Regions from separate parts of the Homo sapiens genome. Here all the other regions are reported to be linked to region 1. The links are microRNA targets in miRTarBase. Many come from high-throughput screens and were not tested one by one. Region 1 holds a microRNA gene; each other region holds the end of a gene's coding sequence.

Region 1 (4,892 bases):
CATCTGTTGCCTCCTTCTGGGGTGGGCTATGGTTTCCTCACAGGCAGGCTCCATTCAGGACTCTGCTGGAGGGCTGCCGGCAGCAGGGAGTTACCTGGGCCACCCCCAGGGACCAGAGTTCCCCTCGTGGGACCTTTCCTCTCTCCCCAGTGAGTTGGAAGCATAGGCGTGGGTGGGGAGGGAGTGGGGGGATGCTTTTGGGGACGTGGACCTCTTATGCCCAGGAATCCCACTGCCTGGGCCGAGTATCTCCTTCCAGGACAGACTTCTCCCTCCCCTCTGCCCCTCAAGGGTGGGGTGTCCCCTCTAGATTCAAGCCCACCCCAACAGGAGGACCCAGTGTCCTGGAGAGGGCCCAGGAATGGAGGAATTCTACAGGCGAGCGCTTGGTGCTGCACCAGCTGAAGACGCGAGCCGCCGGTTCTGGGTCTGCCAGCCCTACTGCTCCAGGGGCTATGGCTGCAGCAGACACGCCCCATGCCCCTTTCTCCCCGAAAGCCCCTCCATTCCCACAGAGCCCACCTGTTCAAGCTAAGCCCCCACCCTGACACTCACCACCACTAACTGTTTTCTCTCTCGCAGGAGAGGGGTCTGCCCTGGGTCGAAACCATCCTTCCAGAGGGGTCTCCCTTAGAAACTCCGAGGCCAAGATTAGCCATGAGGATAAAACCCAGAGATCAGACACAGAGACCCTGGGTCAGGCCTTTGGCCACATGGCCTGGCAGCCTCACCTTGCCGAGTCACAGAGAGGCAGAGCCCCAAGCGAGCCTGGGGAGTCCTGAACCGGCCTGGGTTCCGGCCCTGCCCCATCCCCATTGCTTCTCACCACCTCTCCCCACCACTCTCCCCTCCCTGGCCCAGGGGGTCCCTGGGAGTCCGGGAAAGCGCCCTGGATCATCCAGCTCCTCCCAGGGCTGGGATGCCCACTGCCGAGAGAGCACTCAGAAGCCGCCCGTTGGCTTTGAGGACTTTTATCGCCCAAGGTCCCGAGGTCTGGGTGGGACCGCAAGGGGTTGCCCCTGTCCCCAGAGCTGCGCCCGGCCATCCCGGTGGGAGGGCTCGGCTGGAAGAAGTTGACCACCTTGTGGAGCGACTGCACTCGTGCGCTGTGGGCCTCCCAGTCCGAGAAGCTGCGGAAGTCGCCACTCTCCACCACGTACATGCGGCCGTGGTAGTTGGGCTCCTCATACAGGACCCACCTGGAGGCCAGGGGAGTGGGGATCAGGGGCTGCCAGGAAGTCCCCCGGGACTCCGGAGAGAAAAGCCTGCACAGCCTGGCCACCCAGCAACCCCTCCCGGTCGAGCGGCCCCTTCACTCTGGGCTACACGAAGGCACCCACGGTGCCTTCCCCAGTGCCCTGTGGGGTCCATGCTGGGGTGTGACATGTGTGGGGACAGGCCCAGTAATGTCCACATTTTAAAACTGACCAGTCCTGGCCGGGCATGGGGGCTCACGCCTGTAATCTCAGAATTTTGGGAGGCCGAGGCAGGCAGATCTCTTGTAGTCAGGAGTTTGAGAGCAGCCCGGCCAACGTGGTGAAACCCCGTCTCTACTAAAAATACAAAAATTAGCTGGGTGTGGTGGTGGGCACCTGTAATCCCAGCTACTTGGGAGACTGAGGCAAGATAATTGCTTGAACCAGGGAGGCGGAGGTTGCAGTGAGCCGAGATTGCGCCACTGCATTTCAGCCATCCTTGGCAAGGATGCACTCCCGCCATCACTGCACGCCCCACACACTCCTGTTCCCTGATAAGGACCACCTTGCACAGACAGTACCCCCAGCACCTGGTGGGGGGCCTGGCACAGAGGGCACCGTTCATTCAGTGAATGCCAGCAGGTTCCCACATGTGTGCCCAACACTGTGTCAGGTACCAGAGGTGCCATGGTCACACAACACGGTTCCTGCCCCCTCCTGCCCTCACGGGGCCTCCCCTGCAGAGGAAATGGGCTGTGGGGGTGCAGTTGCATGGAGGAGCCTGCAGGGCACAGAGGAGGGTTGGGGAGTCCCAAGCAGGGCCCCTTCCTGTCCTCCTCCCCTTCTGCACACCACTGGGGCAGCCACCAACAACCCAGAGAGCAGAAACAGTCAGGACAAGTCTTTACAGAGCCTGGAGGACCTCGGGCTGGTGGGGGCAGGAGAGAACACAGCTCTTCATCACCCAGGAAGCTGTGGGCCCGGCCCAGAAAAGCAGGAAGGTGCGGTGGGGAGGGAACGGGGGACCAGGAGGAAGGGACTGGAGGTCCAGGATAGTGGCCTTTGCCTGGAAAGGGGCATGTGGTCCAAGGAAGACACCTCAGGACAGCTCGGAGCAGGGGCTGGCCCAACCCTGTCCTTCCCTCACCATCTCTGAGACGAGTGAGGCTTGTCATGCCTGGTGCCTGGCACAGTCTGCTGCCTCAAGGGTTGGGGCCAGGAAGGAAGAGAGAGAGGCAGAGGGTGTGAGCCAGCCTGGAGCACCTGCTGGGGGACTCAGGGCAGGCCTGGTCCAGCCTGGACCCCACCCTCATGGCCCCCGTATCCATGCCCCTCCACACCTACAGCTTTCCAACCCCACACCTGTGCCACAGCTGGGGCCTCAGAGGCACCTCAGAGAGTCAGCTGGTCCTTTCCTACCCTGTGGTGGGCAAGAAATGCCCCAAGCCATGTCCTGGGCCACATGAGGGTTCTCACATGGACACCCCCAAAAGGAGGGGGCGGGGAACCACCCATCCTGCTGTCCCCTGTCCTGGCTGTGGCTACTGGGAGGAGGCAGACAGAGGAAAGGGCAGGGGCCTGTCCTGCCCACATCAGCACCGTGCCCTTCCCCAGGTGAGGGTAGGTGGAGGCAGAACGCCAGTGCATTTCCCTCCGAGAGCCCACCAGGACACGGGTCTGAGGGGATGGGTCATGCCTGGGCTGATGTGGGACCCAGAGGGAAGGAGTCTTGGCAGTGGGAGGTGGTGGAGGGACCCTGCCTTGCCCACTCCCCCGACCCCAGGAAAGGCCTCCTAGCAGTGTCCCCTCCGGATCGAGGGGACCTGGGGGCGTTACCTCCTTGACAAGGGCTTACATTTGTGTAAGAGTAAGAGTCTTAGGCGGCAAAGGCTGAGCTCCTGGGTCCCCCACCTGGGGTCCCGATGGCTGGCTCCTCTCAGGGACAGTGGGGATTGTGTGCCCCTCAGTCAGAGAAATGTTAGCCTCCACCTTCCCCACCTTCGTTCTCAACAAGCCCCTGAGCGTTGGGGGTGGGCCGGGGGGATTGTGTCTAGGGCCTCAGGACATCCTCCACGCAAAGGCATGACTTGGGCCTTACAAGACACAATTTAGCCAGCAAGTTTTCCAGGGCAAATTCTTGTTTTGGAATGCCACCCCTGGGCTCCAGGTGCCACCAATTTAGGGCAAAATGCAATTTCGTAAAACGGAATCCTGGAGCCAGCTAGAGTGACAGAAACAGCAGGAAGGGGGCCAACATCAGGCCACCGGGGAAAGGTGGGATGTACACAGTCCCTCCCTATCCCTGGGAACTGGTTCCAGGACCTCCCTTGGATATCAAAATCCGAGGATGCTCAAGTTCCTGATATAAAATGGCACTGTATTTGCATATAACCCATGTGTATCCTCCCATATATAGTAAGTCCTCACTTAACACCGTCAGTAAGTTCTTGGGAACCGTGGCTTTAAGCACATGATATATAACAAAGCCATTTCTCCCCTCATCAATTTTATAATGAATCCACATTGAACAAGATGACATATTTGAGGACCTGCCATACATTGTTTCACTTAAAGTCACAGTTTCCAAGAACCTATCCACAATGTTAAGTGAGGACTTACTGGACTCGAAATCATCTCCAGATTACTTATGATACCTAATCCAACATAAACGCTATGTAAATAGTTGTACAGTATCTTTCAGGGAATAATGTACATATTCAGCATAGACACAATTGTGGGGGGATATTTTCGCTGTGCGGTTGGAGCCCATGGACATGGGGTACCACCTGTGCCCAGCTCTGCCTCGGCCCAGTCTCTGTCTCCCTGCAGTCCCTCTGCCCCCTGCATCCCCTCCGAAGCTCCCTGGCCTTGAACCTCTGTAGTATAGACGGCAAATTGTTCCTCAATTGCTTCGATAGGCGCCAGAACCATGCACAGCCAGCTGGAACCTGTGTGAGGGGCTCTTGGCCTGAGGGGAGGGGACTGAGGCCTGGGAAAGCGGCTAGCTCTGGAACAGGGACAGACACAGGCTTGGCTGCAGTCTCAGCTGTGCCACTCCCACGGGGCGGCCGGGCAGTCAGCCTTCTGAGTCTCAGCTTGCCCTTTGTAGAACGGGGGCGATAATATCTACCTGACCTAGAGGTGTGGGCTGGACAATGAAAATACATGGCCAACTTGAAGGTGCTCAGAGGATAGTTGCAAAAGGGGAGTGTGCGGGAGGGCAGGAGGGGGCACACAGGCTGCCCTTGGTTGACCAGGAGGAAACCCAAGTGTGGGGCAGACAAACCCATCTGGGCCTGGGCAAAATTCCCCCAGCTACTTTCTGTCCAGGAGTGAGCCACCCCGAAGTCCATCTCCTCCCAGAGGCCAGGGTGGTGGGGGTTTGCAGAGAGGCCCGGTTCAGGGGTCAGCTCTGCGGGGTAGGCGCGGGGGCAGGGTGGGCTGGTCCACCCTTCTCAGAGCAAGTGAGCCCACTGTGGCTTTTCCAGCCCATAAGGCCCTGGAGGACCCCTTGGTAAGCAGGTGTCCCCCGGTTCAAGAAAACCAAAGGCGGCCCCTTGTATCAGATCAATCGCAGAGAACCGTGCAACTTTCAAGGTACTCTCCTACCTCTGCTCCTGGACTGAGGCCCTAGAGGGAAGGTCTCAGGGTGCCTCTGGGGCCCAGAGTCCCTCTCTGAGGCCCTTCTGGGCCACA
Region 2 (4,892 bases), not on the chromosome of region 1:
TGACCAATTTAGTATGTCAGGGAATGAAGAGGTTCCCCGGTCAATGTTACAGCCTGGTTCCTGGAAAAAGAGCCTGCAAGCGTGCATTGCTAATTCCCATTCACACACTGACTTGGCGCAATTTGCTGTGCTGTTGTATGCAATGATCTGCATCAATGACACTGGCCAAGGGAGAAGCAGAAACAGAAATGAGGACATGTAACTTTCAAGAAAGGAAGAGTATCATTAAAATGAAAATTTCTCTGTTGCAAACATCATAGAGAAAATGTGCAATCCCAGGCCAATAAGCAAATCTTTGCCCAAAATAAACATATTTCTTCTGCTACATCTCACTGCGGCCCTTAGAAAAACCGTACCAATGACTTATCTTACTGGAGGTGTTAATACCACCAACATATTTTATTCCTTCCTTCAGTTTTTCCAGTTTCTTTACCAGCAGTATCTGAACTTTTCATTTAGGAAACACCATTCTTCATGGTGCTTATGAAAACAGGAGGTGCCTGAAGGAGGCTGAGAAGAGGTTTGCAGCTTCTACTGTCCTTGATAGGGGAGGGGAGGGGAGACTGCATGCCATCTGATATTCAATTCCTCAACCATACTGGCAATTTGTTTTGGCTAGAACATTTAAAAGTGTAATAGCTCCACTGGGTTTCCTTATTCCACTTCTCAGATTTCAGAAAATCTTTATAATTCCTGAGTAGTTGCAGTGAGTGTGTAGAAAGACACCATCATCAACATAAGGATTCAAAAGGCAACTGTTGGGCAGTAGGACCATCACCTATGACCTCTGGGCCCCCACCGTCATCATAAACATCCACTTCTGCTTGGCCACACTTTTTCTTATTTCTTTTTCCCCAGTAAGCTGCCACTTATTGAGATAAAAGCCATACAGCACACCTCCTAACCTGGTTTTTGATACTTCATGGGCCTGATGCTTTTTTTTTTGAAACGGAGTCTCACTGTCGCCCAGGCTGGAGTGCAGTGGTGCTATCTCGGCTAGCTGCAAGCTCCACCTCCTGGGTTCACGCCATTCTCCTGCCTCAGCCTCCCGAGTAGCTGGGACTACAGGCGCCCACCACCACGCCCGGCTAATTTTTTGTATTTTTAGTAGAGATGGGGTTTCACCGTGTTAGCCAGGATGGTCTCAATCTCCTGACCTCGTGATCCGCCCCCGCTTGGCCTCCCAAAGTGCTGGGATTATAGGCATGAGCCACCACGCCCGGCCCGGGCCTGATGCTTTTTACCTAACGTGTCTGTAGTGTAATTTATGATGTACTTTGTGTAATTTATGTAACTTATGATATTGTGTGCTCTGATGCTGTCAATTGCTCATGCAAGAATCTGAACTACTGTCAAACTGTGTCCTCAGATTTAATGAATATTGTCTAAGAGGAGACAAAGTTGTTTGTAAGTTAAGGGTTCTTAGAGTTACTACTAAGTCAGGTGTGTCTGGTTAGATGCAGCATAGCAAACTGGTTACTCTCCTTTCTAGTTCAGGGAGGGCTATGCCTAGAACAGCCACTTAAAGCCTGCTGGCAGGATGTGCTTAAGCTGCCAAATGGCATCCCGATCACCTCCTCTCCAGGAAAAGTTCAGATCCTCCTGCTACACTGAACACAAGCTCAACAGCATTTTAGAGGGATCATTTTCAAGGCCTCCAGATTATTTTAGATGAACTTCCTTGAACAAATTGTCATTGACCTTTACTGAGCATCAATTTGAGTTAAAAATGAAGGCTGTGTCAGCAACGTGGTACATTGGTGGACTTGGGAGGGGGCATCCCAGATACATGATGCAGGGTTCAGAATAGGTGAGAATAATGAAGATTCTGCCATGGTGTCTTACAACACTAACATCATACATCGACTAGTGTGACAAAACCACTAGGTTTCCCCAACCGAGGCAGGCAAACCTTGCTTTGTAGAAATAGGTATTTTACTGCAAAGTTTTAGTCTGTTCACTAGGATGAAATCCAAAGTGGGCTGTATTTGTCTAACTCTCAAATTAAGTGTTCTCACTCATTATTCTTCAGCACTGGTTCCTGAAGGGTTACGTGGCCACAGTGGCAGCCCTGCTTACCTTCACTGATTTCTCGTAAGCATCCTACTTACAGACCAAAGTGGACTGCAATGAGTACACCTCAAACCTCCCGCTGCTCTCACCATCAAGCCTATAAGGATTGAGACTTCTGCTGGCCCCACATAACTCAAAAGAGCTGAATTATATGGCATGGGTAAAACTGGCACTTTTCTTGTGCATGATAACACTAGAAGGAGCATACAATGGTTATAAGTGGAATCAGTTTTTAATTGATCCGTTCTTTTGGTTGTCTTCAGAGTTAAGTGAAAATGAAGAGAAACTATGTAAGAAAGCAGCATAAAAAGCTTCTTGCTCACAAGCAACTTCAAGCCTTTTTAGTCATGCATGTTCCTTCTCGGCTTTTCTGTTTTGCTTGTCTCGTTCCTTCATTGTGAATTTTAAAAATCCAACCATGTTACCATATTCCTTTCAGTTGCACCAGTAGAAAAGGCGGTTAGCACCTGCATGAATATGGCTTCTGTGACTTGATTTGATCCTGACTGCAGTCTTCATTCTCGAAGCTGACATTAGATTAGGATATGGTGCTGCTTTCATTACTGGATCTATTATAGAAGCATTCCTGAGGGGCTGCTGGCTGGCAGGCATATCCTGGGAAGATGCTCAGGCACCTGGCAAGTCCAGGGGTTCTGGAAAGATGCTGGGGCAAGGGGCAGGCCACATGTGGAGGCTGGATCAGGAAGGAATTTAAGATTTCTGCTCATCTCTGGACTGTCCTCCACCAATTGGGGGGAGAAAGCTCGGCCTCTTCAAGGCCTAAAAATGAGTCTTTGATCATATTGTCCATTCATCTCCAGTCCTCTTTCTTCACCCCTCACAAGATTTCAGAGACGTGGCTTAAAGACAAAAGTGTCAGAGAGGTCAAAGGTGGTTTCCTTATGTGACTCAAGAGCCAGGGTCAGAAAGAGCTGCCTGTGAACAATATTCCACTTGGAAGTTTTCTATTAATGTAATTACTTTCATTTTGATGTAAGGAACCTTTTTTCTGCCCTTCAGTTTTTTTGACATTAAAGAGTCCTGCTTCATCCTACTTCACATGCCTATCAGCCAAGGTCATGAGCAGGTGCTGTGAGTTGCATTTGCTCTCCTGTCTGGAAACTGCCTCCTGGGGATGGGGGTCGTCCAGCTGCACAGTCACAGCACATAACGTAGAACTCGGCTGCGTATCAACACAACATTGCCCATTCATGAACGGTCCAAAATGTAAAAGGTGCTCTGCCGCTGGGTCTCTTGTCCAAGCACACCCAAGGCTGTGCTTGCTCAGGTATTACATTTTCTCCTGGGAGTTGGGGTGCAGAATCTCTGCTGGCCCAGAAAAACCACAAAGGACCGATGTAAAAACAAGAATGGGCCTCACTTAACAACTGATGTCAACTCCTTGCATGGTAACTTGTTCTCCAGGATGAAGTTTATGGCTATTTGTCTCCCTCTCTCCACCCAGGTATGATTCTGTTTTTTCTCCTTTTCATCACGTAAACCATAACAACAAAAAATCATTTTTTTAGTCTGGATAATACATGTTCTTGGACCTCTTCAAGAATAGTTTTGGTGAGTTGCAACATTATTGGAGAGAAAGATGCTGCAGGATTTTGCTGCAACAGGATCAAAACTAAGACCAATAATCAAAACAGCAGTGTGTAACGACAAAGACTTGAACTCTCCCAAGGCAACTGTCCTCAATGATCTTTTCTCTCTTCTGTGACAATGTGACATATATCAAGCTTTGGTTATAAAGCTGGAAATCTCAGCTTTTAAAAAAATTTTGGAAACATTTTGGTATTTCTTCTGCTCTTAGAGTGGACTTTGGGCTTCCACAAGAAACAGTCATCAAATATTTCTGCAATGTTCCCTTAAATAGTTTTCCATTGTTCCTGCGGCTTAATGAGGGACTTCTTAAAGAAGGCATGGGGCACTCTCTGCAGATGACCTCAGAAAGAGATGAGCAAAAACAAACATTTAGTGACACATCTTTCAAGAACGTCCTGCAACCCTGTGGTCACAAAGAGTATGCGTGCAAGGTCCTCCACCTCCAGTGCCATCATTTCCATGTGTCTTCATCTTAGTTAGTGGTCACACTGGCTTCCTTCTGACGCAGTCTTTCTTTCTGTTAAGGAAAAAAAAATGAATGTATCATTTTCTTTCATCTTTCTCAAGTTTTGATACATTTCTCAAATTTTGGTCTAGAATGCTGAGTTTCCGGAATTGTGCCAAATGGCCTAGAAATGAGAGTACCTCTACTGCTTTCCCTAAGCTCTTAGTTATCTGCCCCTCCCTACCTATCACCCTTACTCCCCAGAAAAACAAACAAGAAATCAATAACCAGCCAATCTACCAACTACATCCATCTAAAACACGGGCCTTTACCATGCCAGGGTGGTCTTTTCTGTTCTCTTCTTTTGTGACAAAGACCCTAACTTTGTAGTGTTACTCAAGGACCCCTTCCGTCCCTACCTTTGGCTCATTGATGGAATTAGAGAATGCCCAAGAAGATATGAAAAAAAAAATTACTATTTCCAATGATCAACTTGGCAGAACTCAACAAAAGCCATGCAAAATGGGAGATGACCAGATTTAGTCTCTGCAGAATGGCAGAAGTTCCCGATTTGCCATGGATGTTATGCTCTTCATTCTCCGAGCTTCCTCCTCAGAGACTGCCTTCTAAAGGGAAGGACATGGACATCTGCTGGGAAGACGTAAGAATACACAGGAGCACACTACACAGAAACATGGACCCCCATGGTATCTGTGACACTAGGGAAGCACACATATCAGTATGGTAAGGATGGTGTGCCTGC
Region 3 (4,892 bases), not on the chromosome of region 1:
CCCTCAAAAAAATTTACAGGACAGGCCACCTGGTCTAAATGTATGACACATCCTTTTCTCTCTACATGCCAGTTGGCAACCTTATTTTAGAGTGTCCAAACTTTGCTTAAGAAAAGACTTAAAAGATTCCTCCAAATACCCATCCAACCAAAGTTTATCTGATTTTCGATAAGGTACCATCCCCAAATATGAAATGCTAAGTCTCATAATAAAACACCTTTGGCATTTAAATGTCCAACATCTCAACCTTTTGTCTTGTTAAAGGATTATAAAAATGTACAATACTTTAAAACCATGAAATAAACTAGGTAAAACTAAGGAGACACAAGTAAAATACAATGTCCTTGCTGAAGACTCTGAATAATGGCTTTAAGAAATACCTGAGTCTGGCAAAATACTAGATACTAGAAGTCGGTACCAAGGGCAATTAAATCGATGCTCTTTTTCCCATCAGCGAGGTAAGCTCTGGAGCCTCCAGAGAGCTGAATCAGACCCGGTGGCTTTCCTCTTTGCTCAAACATTTATTTCTGAAATGGCGGGCATGTCACCAAATGATAATACTTAAAGCAAGTTCACAGGTTTTGTTAAAAAAAGAAAACAATCTAGTACATCCACAAATAGGAAACCAAACACACCTGAACACATCTATGATTAAATAAGAATATTTAATGGCATGGAATGATATGTACACTGTAGGTTCAATATGTTTTCAAAACATACCTAGCACCTATGGCTGCCTGTGCCTAGTAAATAGAAAAGGTATAACAGAATAATTTTTACAATTTACAAAGTTTAATACAATTGAGAAAGGTTTCTATAAACATTGTTAAAATATTTCAGAGGGCAAATGCTTACTTTGCATAGCAATGCTTCAGTTACCTGGAATGCCCTCCCTTCTTTCTTCCAAGCAATTTTATGCAGCACGAAGCTCAGTGGCTCTACTCCAAGTGCCAACAAGGTGAACAACCCAGTTCCTGCTCTCATGGAACTCACATTCTGGTGGAATTTGTTTTTGCAACATACTTGCTGACAATATCAAATTAATAAGCCATTAGTATTGAAAAGTAATTTACACACTCTCCAGTCTGGTCCTTATTTTGATATATGTCTTCCTATGAGATGGATGCAAACTCACAGCAAAAACTATGTGTATACATACAGCCACATGCCGCATGATGTTCAGTCAAGGATGGACCACGTATATGGCAGTGGTTCCACAATACTGTATTTTTGCTACGCCTTTTCTATGTTTCGATACACAAATGTTTACCACTGTGTTACAACTGCCTACAGTAGTCAGTACAGTCACATGCTGCCCAGGTTTGTAGCCTAGGAGCAACAGGCCATACCATAGAGCCCAGGTGCACAGTAGGCTGTACCATCTAGGTTTGTGTGTCACTCTATGATGTTTACACAATGACAAAATTGCCTAATGATACATTTCTCAGAATATATCCCCATCCTTAACTGATGTGTGACTGTATTTTACTAACCTGGCCAGGTGGAACCTTCACCAATAAAAATTCTACATGAAAAATGCTATTTATTGTTTCTTTCAGACATTAGAGATTCCTTAACTTTAGTTTAAATAATCTTAATATGCAAACTTTTTATTTCCCTTGTTCTCCAAATATGATAAACCAAGATTTTTAATATTAACAGGTATGAGTTCTGCCTACATACATTGTCTTTGGAAAAGGCAATTATCTGCAACTGTAATTAAACATTCTTTTATTTCCCCCATTGCTAAAGGATTCCACTCTTCTGGCTAAAATATAAAACTATACAATTATAAATACTTATTTGCAATGCTTCTCTTTGAACAAATTTGCTTGTTGTATAAGACACTTGCTGATCACCTTGTAAGCTACTTAAAACATGGTATGACTTGAGTGCCTTGTATATTTTAGTTGAATTATAGTTTTGCATTTTAAAATATATCAATTATGCTATATAACAAATTAGTTTTAAATTATAATTGTTATGGGCTTACTATGTGTCAGTCCCCAGGCCTATCAGCATAATGGATGATGAAATTCATAATAGCTCTTGAGGAACAGAGGAAAATGTACACCCAGAGTTGCCCAGAGAGGTCTGGGAGTGTTCCAATTGTCACTTCCCAGGTGGACCTAGCCCTGACAGGATCCTCACATCCTCTTCCCTTCTTATGGAGATACAAAGCTGAGCACCTGCCTACAGACTTTAGGCTTTTAGAGAGCCTCTCAGACTAGGCCAACTGCTCATAATCCTGCCAACCCTCTTTGGCCCCTATGATGTTGTAAAGGCAATGTGGCACTCATATCAGCAGCACACATACTATAACTGGCACAACACAGAGGTCAGCATGGGCCCCATGCACAGATGACACACAAATTCATGAAGTGTTCTACATACATATATGTATAATTTTTTTTTTTTGAAACAGGGTCTTGCCCTGTCGCCCAGGCTGGAGTGCAGTGGTGCTATCATGGCTCACTGCAGCCTCAACCTCCCAAGCTCAAGTGATCCTCCTACCTCAGCCTCCCAAGCAGCTGGAACTACAGGTGTGCACCCACCACACCTGGCGAATTTTTTATTTTTTGTAGCGATGAGGTTTTGCCATGTTGCCCAAGTTGGTCTCAAATTCCTGGGCTCAAGTGATCCTCCTGCCTTAGCATCCCAAAGTGCTGGGATTACAGGCGTGAGTCACTGTGCCCAGCTGCGTTCCATATTTCTACACACCCATGCATACATGGAGGAGTATACGTTGGGGAAAGTAAAGCTGGGGAAATGTGAATAAAATCAGCGGGCTGTATTGATGTCAACATCCTGATTGTTATATGTGTGAAACATTACCACTGAGAGAAATTGGGCAAAATATACAACTATATGTGAATCTATGATTACATCGTATAGGAATAGATTCCCCATAACTATATCAACATACAATCATAAAATACATACATCGCCTATGTAATAGTATGATTACTTCAACATAATGTTTAATTTAAAAAAAGGCAATGTAGCTAGGCAGGTATAACGCATGAGCATAATACGGGAAGCCTATCTCACTGATACATACGATTTCCTTGGTCTCTGCACCTGAGACAATAATCTCCTAAGTCTAAAGCTTTAAAAAAGTACTTACTGTTACCTTGTCACTATACTAATGTGCAGAACATATGAAATAAGATAGAAAATGTCCACAAGGGCCAGTGATCAAAGGAGCCCATAGATCCTGGGTGCACAGTAGGCTGTACCATCTAGGTTTGTGTGTCACTCAAACAAAAAACAAAACAAAAACACTACACACTATTCTCTAAAATCTTCCATGGGAGCTCAGAGTTCAAGTGAATATTTCTTTCTCTTCTGGAAGACTCCTCATGAAGGTGGTAGTATAAATAATTATCCACAAAGAATTGTCAGGCATTCATCCCTAATGAAAACTACTAAGCCAAAAGTAACAAAAAAATATTTTAATGATATTTCTGTAGGACAAAATAATTAAACTGAGGCAGGCAGAGGAAAGTAAGAGAATCCACATAACCACAGCTTACATCACTTTAAATCTCGACAGCCCCAAGTCATGAGAATGAACCCAGTCCCAGCAGCCCAGGCTTCTCTGTTCCTCCTCCTGCAGGCACAGTTTGAGTAGAGACATCTCTTGAGCTCTTTCCCACTGACTTGTCATTCACAGGCATTCAAACTGTGATGTTTGAAACTGTCTACCTCCGCAGATCCAGGGACAGTCCCTCCAGTCCAAAGGCTCACTGCAATTGGCCCTCAGCCCCCTTCAAACTGGACTTCTGGTTTCTTCTTTCCTTCTGCCCCTGAATTCTGAAGAGCTTCTTCCTGAGGTCCTTCTGCCGCTTCAGCTTCTCCTCCTCCTCCTTCTGCTTGGCTCTGAAGTGCTCTTTATTGTGCAGGTGCCGCTGCTCCTTGGCCTTCTTCATCTTCTGACTATGCACCGTACTCAGAGCATCCAGCAGTGCAAGGATCTGACAAGGACAAAAGCCGGTGAGTATCAGAATGCTCTCAGACACCACACACTCGCATCCTAAGCACTAAGACTAGAGGCAACCCACGATCCAAATGAATATTAACTGCATGAAAATGCATCCTGTGCTAGGAAGTCATTGTTGGCATGGAGACACAGGTGTGATCCCATTTTACCTTTACCACCTCTGTTCATCATTCTGTGGACACTGTGTGCAGCTAACCGAGACAGAAGGGTTCCCCAGCCATGTACCTGTTATCCCCCATGAAAAGCACAGGGCAGAGCAGGACCAGGCAAAGAAAGGGAAATGGACTCTGGCTCTTCCTCTGACTTTAGTTCCAGTGCCCTGAATAACTGAGACTACAGTAGAAACAGGAAGTGTGCTATTGAGAGTGTTCTTTTCCTATCTAAACGCAGCGTGCAGTACAGCATGGGCAACAGTACCTTTCTTTCATGAGGCTCGCGTATGACGGCCGGTCTCCGCCTGTCCTTTGGCACCTTGCCTGCCTTTGCTTGGGTCTTGGGCTTGTTCTTAAATGGCAGGGCCTTCTGCAAGGCTTTTGGAATGTGCAGTGAATTAAAATGTTTCTTTTGCCTCAGGATTGGCTGAAAAGAAAAACAAAGACTGTGACATATTCAAATTATGATCAATGTGCATTTAAAACTTCTGCATAAAATCTTCTCAATGGGTTGACTTTTCCACAAGATTAGTAACACCAGAGTCTGCCGGCCCTGAGAAATCAGGACTCAATCATCTGCCAAATATGAACTGCCTCAGTGGACACCCACAATTCTCAGTAAACAGAGGAACAGACAGCTTACACTTACAACTCTCCCCCCAAAACCCACTGTGCCCATTTCTATGGTATGGAACTATGGGGTCTCAACAGAACAGATGAATAGATCCCAGTTTCTT
Region 4 (4,892 bases), not on the chromosome of region 1:
GCTTTCCCACTTATAACGTGTATGATTTGGGGCAGGTTAATTAACCTTTTCCTGCCTCAGTTTCTGCATCAGTAAAATGGAAATAATAATTACACATATTTATTGTTTAGAACAGTGTCCATCTGGAACATGGCAAAAGTTCAGTAAGTTATTGCTTTTCTTCACAGCACTTACTACATTTTATTACATACTGGTCTTGTCTTCTACATTAGAAGTAAGCTCCATTAGGGCAGGACTTTGTATTACTGAGGACTTTATCCCTAGCTCCTAGTGCAGTGTATTTAGTATAAAGGCCTTCAGTATTTGTTATGAGTTAATTTACTGAATGTTTAAAACGCCATAAATTGCTATAACAGAAGAAAAGAATTATAATTAAAAATAAAACACAGGCCGGGCACGGTGGCTGATGCCTGTAATCCCACACTTTGGGAGGCCGAGGTGGGCGGATGGATCACAAGGTCGAGGTCGAGACCATCCTGGCCAACATGGTGAAACTCTGTCTCTACTAAAAAAAAAATACAAAAATTAGCTGGGCGTAGTGGCGTGCACCTGTAGTCCCAGCTACTCAGGAGGCTGAGGCAGGAGAATCGTTTGAACCCAGGAGGTGGAGGTTACAGTGAGCCAGATTGCACCACTGCACTCAAGCCTGGCGACAGAGCGAGACTCTAAAAACTAATAAATAAAAACATAAATAAAACACAAAAAGCCATAAATGATTGTATTATTTTCTTTCTTTTTTTTTTTTTTTTGAGACGGAGTCTCACTCTGTCACCCAGGCTGGAGTGCAGTGGCACGATCTCGGCTCACTGCAACCTCCGCCTCCCGGGTTCACACCATTCTCCTGCCTCAGCCTCCCGAGGAGCTGGGACTACAGGCGCCCGCCACCACGCCCCGCTAATTTTTTGTATTTTTAGTAGAGATGGGGTTTCACCGTGTTAGCCAGGATGGCTATAATCCTCATACTTTGGGAAGAAGAGGTGGGAGGATCACTTGAGCCCAGGAGTTCCGAGACTTGCATGGGCAACATGGTGAGACCCTGTCTCTACAAACAATAAATTAGCTGGGCATGGTAATGTGCACCTGCAGTCCTACCTACTGGAGAGGCTGAGGTGGGAGGATTGCTTGAGCTCAGGAGTTCAAGGCTGCAGTGAGCAATGATCATGTCATTGCACTCCAGCCTGGGCAACAGAGTGAGACCTTGTCTCTGAAAAAAAAATCCAAACTCCCCTCCCTCAAAACAGGCTTCTATTTTGGGCATTATTTTTAACTTATTTATATGTTAAACATCTAATTAATCTCTTGAGATGCTAATTTATAGAAAAAAAGAGACAAGTTAATGACGGCTACCTTTGAAGTCAGGCTTAAAAAGTAACAATTCTTCGTATTTAGCCTTTTTCTTTTTTGTTTTTGAGATGGAGTCTTGCTCTGTCACCCAGGCTAGAGTGCAGTGGTGCTATCTCGGCTGCCTGCCAGCTCCGCCTCCCAGGTTAACGCCATTCTCCTGCCTTAGCCTGCCGAGTAGCTGGGACTACAGGCGCCTGCCACCACATCTGGCTAATTTTTTGCATTTTTAGTAGAGACAGGGTTTCACCATGTTAGCCAGGATGGTCTCGATCTCCTGACCTCGTGATCCGCCCACCTCGGCCTCCCAAAGTGCTGGGATTACAGGCGTGAGCCACCGCACCCGGCCTATTTAGCCTTTTTCAACTTCCACTGCATTTTCACATACATTATACCTTTTGTTCCCATATCCTGTGCTGTAAATTTGAGCAGGTTTTATATAGTTTATATATGAGGAAAAAAAAAAGATACCTCAGAAAGGCTGATTTGCCTAAAGTTGCATGAATTTTTTTTTTTTTTTTGAGATAAAATCTTTCTGTGTCACCCAGGCTGGAGAGCAGTGGTGCCATCATGGCTCACTGCAGCCTTGGCCTCCTAGGTTCAAGCAATCCTCCTGCCTCAGCCTCCCAAGAGGTATGTGCCACCATGCCCCAGCTAATTTTTAAAAATTTTTGTAGAGATGGAATCTTGCTATGTTGCTCAGGCTGTTCTCAAACTCCTGGGCTCAAGCTATCCTTTTGCTTTAGCCTCCCAAAGTGCCAGGATTTCAGGCAAGAGACACTGCACCTGGCCTAGTTGCATGATTTGCATGAGCTGAAATACAGTACCCTGGTGCTTTCAATATTAGAGTTTCCATACTTTATAATTGTACCTCCCCAACCTTCAGCCCCTGCTCTCTCTCACTCTAATATCTCACAATCACATTAATTTTTTTGCTGTTTATATGTCTTCTAAGGGAAATGACAATTTTAACTTTGGTGTAATATTTATTGCACCTATCTACTTAATTTTTTAATGTATAAAAATTGCATTAAAACATCAATATGCAATTATTTTCCCACCACTCAAAAATTTTAATATGTATTGAAGATTTTGGCCAAAAAATATGCAAAAGACAAGGAATATAAAAATAACTTACAACAAATTTCTAAAACCCCTCATATATTAAAATTGGTAAGACAAAAATATGATTTATAATACATGTTTGCCATTGTGGTATATATAAGAAAATAGTACTCATACTAAATTCAATCTACTTATCAAAATTCTTAATATAAGAATGAAAATATTCAGATGTTATAAATAGAAAGACAGGTATTAAAAAGTTTCTTTTGGACAACATTCTTTGGTGCTGATAAAACTGCATGTTATTGTCTATGGTAAAGTCTTTTCAGACTTTACTACATATCTAGTTACAACTGGAAATGAAAAAAATATAAATTAGATATGACTATAGAAAGTAGTTATAGGGTATTTTGATTTCATGGTGCTCAAATGTTTATGAACAAGTTTTACTTATTAAACTTTGAAATAACTACCTATTCTTTGATATTTCTTATATATCTATATGTTCCAGAAATTAGAAAAAAGTTACCTACATAGGCAGAGAATTCAACTGTGAGTTGACAATTATTTACGATTCTCTTAACTGGCTGTTTCACAACGTTATGGAGCTAAGAAAGGATGAAAGCTTACCACTGCTTGGATACCAGCTTGATAAGCAGCTTGGAATGTCAAATATATAACAAGAAAGGAAATATTCTACTTTAAAGGAACATGGTAAGTAAATGAATAACATGGACACAACTTAGTATAAGTTCTTTACCCTAATAAATTAATTATTCATTTGCAAATATTACCAAAAGTAAAAAAAATTTATTTTATAGAGTGGTTGATTTTTGTAATACATCAAAAACTGTGATGTTATACACTTCCCTATTCTCATTGCTTATCTCATATCAGTGGTTGAAGTTTCTCCCAAATAATTTAGTTTACATTTAAAGTGGCAATACAGATTTTACTTAATGGACTTAAGTTATAATTAGAAACCAGTTTTATATACAGAAAATCCATAAATATAGAACTTTTATTCCTATTTTATCTTTAGGCTATGCAAAAAATGGACTAAAAATTTTTCATTTGGGTCTTTGTAATAAACATGTAAATACATATTTACAATGGAGATGCTTCCTGATAGAAAGTAAACAGAAGTAATTTTGGTCTTCACTAGAATCCATCATATCTATTTTTGAAGATGATGTAATACATCATGTTTACTCAAAATTTGATTCCTTTTATACACATAATTTAAATAATTACTCCACTTTTACCATTAATGTTTCATTCTGTATTTAAATTTCCTTCAAGAAAGATTCCTTGATCCAGTAGTAGGGAACTCTGTTTCTGTACAGTTAATGTGTAATTTTTATCCTTCTGGCAATATTACAAATACTGAGTCATTTAATCTTCATTGTTTATTCTCCAGGGGTAATTCTTGAGTTATCTCACATGATGTAAGTACCATCTTTGCAGTATTTCATGGATTCCATTTGTTTTGTCATAGCCAGAACATCATGAAATCCAGTACTTAGGCCAGACATATGTTGAAAGTATGCCTCCTTTTCCACTTGAATTGTTAAATTGTTTACTCCAGCATCTTTAAGTATTCCTGTAACCTGTTATAAAAATCCAGATATTTTGAAGCATTTAGAGTAATGCATTTAGTACACACGTCTTAATATGCTGTACATAGTTGATACGGGTTGAGTATCTTTAATCTGAAAATACGAAATCTGAGACGCTCTAAAATCTGAAACTTTTTGAGTGCCAAGATGGTGTTAAAAGGAAATGCTCATTGGAGCATTTTGGATTTGGATTTTCAGATTAGGGATGCTCAACTGGTAAGCGTAATGCGAGTATTAAAAAAAATAAAATCGCAAATCGAAAACACTTCTGGTTCCAAGCATTTTAGATAAGGAATATTAAACCTGTGTCACATTTTTAAAATAGTTACAGGCCAGGCACAGTGGCCCAGGGAGGCTGAGGCAGGAGGATCGCTTGAGCCCAGGAGTTTGAGACCAGCCTGGGCAACATAGTGAGATCTTGTCTCTAAAATGAATGAGTAAACAAACAAACAAACAGTTACAGTAGTCCAAGATAAATCTTCGAAGTAATATTCATCATTTAGTTAGTTAAAATATTAGACTCTTTTAGGTCAGTAAATTACTGATTTGACATTCACAGTAGAAAAGGAAAACAGCCATTGTTTCCAATTTGGCACATCTAGAACAGGGCTTTAGTAACTATTCTGACCTCTATCTCCAAACATAGCATATACCCTGCCAAGTTGATTATTACTAATTTAGGAATATATTTATAATAACTTATTTTTTGATAATCTACTGGAAACCAAGATTAATCAAACTCATAAATGAATTTTTTTATATTAATTAAAGCTTATCCTCTAAACACAAAACTTCATTTATTTTAGCAATTTTTAGATATAAAACAAATCTAGATGTAAAAAGTAAGCTATATTACCGTTACAGATT

What was found. The annotated mature microRNA hsa-miR-3907 reads AGGUGCUCCAGGCUGGCUCACA and lies in region 1 at 2,440-2,461, opposite strand. An mRNA with a match to its seed (bases 2 to 7 or 8) in the 3' UTR can be bound and repressed. Matches are read on the target gene's strand: a 7mer-m8 pairs with bases 2 to 8, a 7mer-A1 pairs with bases 2 to 7 and ends in A, and an 8mer does both.
Region 2: miRTarBase lists FMN1 as a target of hsa-miR-3907. Seed matches in the 3' UTR shown: 7mer-m8 at 3,307-3,313, 7mer-A1 at 2,620-2,626, 7mer-A1 at 983-989 and 7mer-A1 at 476-482.
Region 3: miRTarBase lists BMS1 as a target of hsa-miR-3907. Seed matches in the 3' UTR shown: 7mer-A1 at 2,458-2,464.
Region 4: miRTarBase lists SLC30A5 as a target of hsa-miR-3907. Seed matches in the 3' UTR shown: 8mer at 2,826-2,833 and 7mer-A1 at 2,688-2,694.

The regions. Positions count from the first base shown.
Region 1 is chr7:151,431,087-151,435,978 of GRCh38, forward strand. MIR3907 (microRNA 3907) reads right to left here and starts at 2,553; the gene lies at 2,403-2,553. All of the region lies in intron 3 of CRYGN (crystallin gamma N), which reads right to left. It overlaps LOC124901780, which reads right to left. Exons shown (of 1, transcript XM_047421163.1): 1 at 1,206-4,892. The coding sequence starts at 2,371. The coding sequence ends at 1,466. RefSeq lists enhancers at 1,733-1,832, 2,103-2,192.
Region 2 is chr15:32,770,154-32,775,045 of GRCh38, forward strand. FMN1 (formin 1) reads right to left here. Exons shown (of 21, transcript NM_001277313.2): 21 at 1-4,201. The coding sequence ends at 4,157. Among named protein-coding and RNA genes, the nearest start is that of GREM1-AS1, 54 kb to the left of the region's middle. RefSeq lists an enhancer at 3,415-4,614.
Region 3 is chr10:42,829,951-42,834,842 of GRCh38, reverse strand. It overlaps BMS1 (BMS1 ribosome biogenesis factor), which reads right to left. Exons shown (of 23, transcript NM_014753.4): 22 at 4,421-4,582; 23 at 1-3,977. The coding sequence ends at 3,747. It also overlaps the pseudogene RNU6-885P. Among named protein-coding and RNA genes, the nearest start is that of LINC02623, 39 kb to the left of the region's middle.
Region 4 is chr5:69,128,571-69,133,462 of GRCh38, reverse strand. SLC30A5 (solute carrier family 30 member 5) reads right to left here. Exons shown (of 16, transcript NM_022902.5): 16 at 2,394-4,016. The coding sequence ends at 3,846. Among named protein-coding and RNA genes, the nearest start is that of SNORA50D, 30 kb to the left of the region's middle.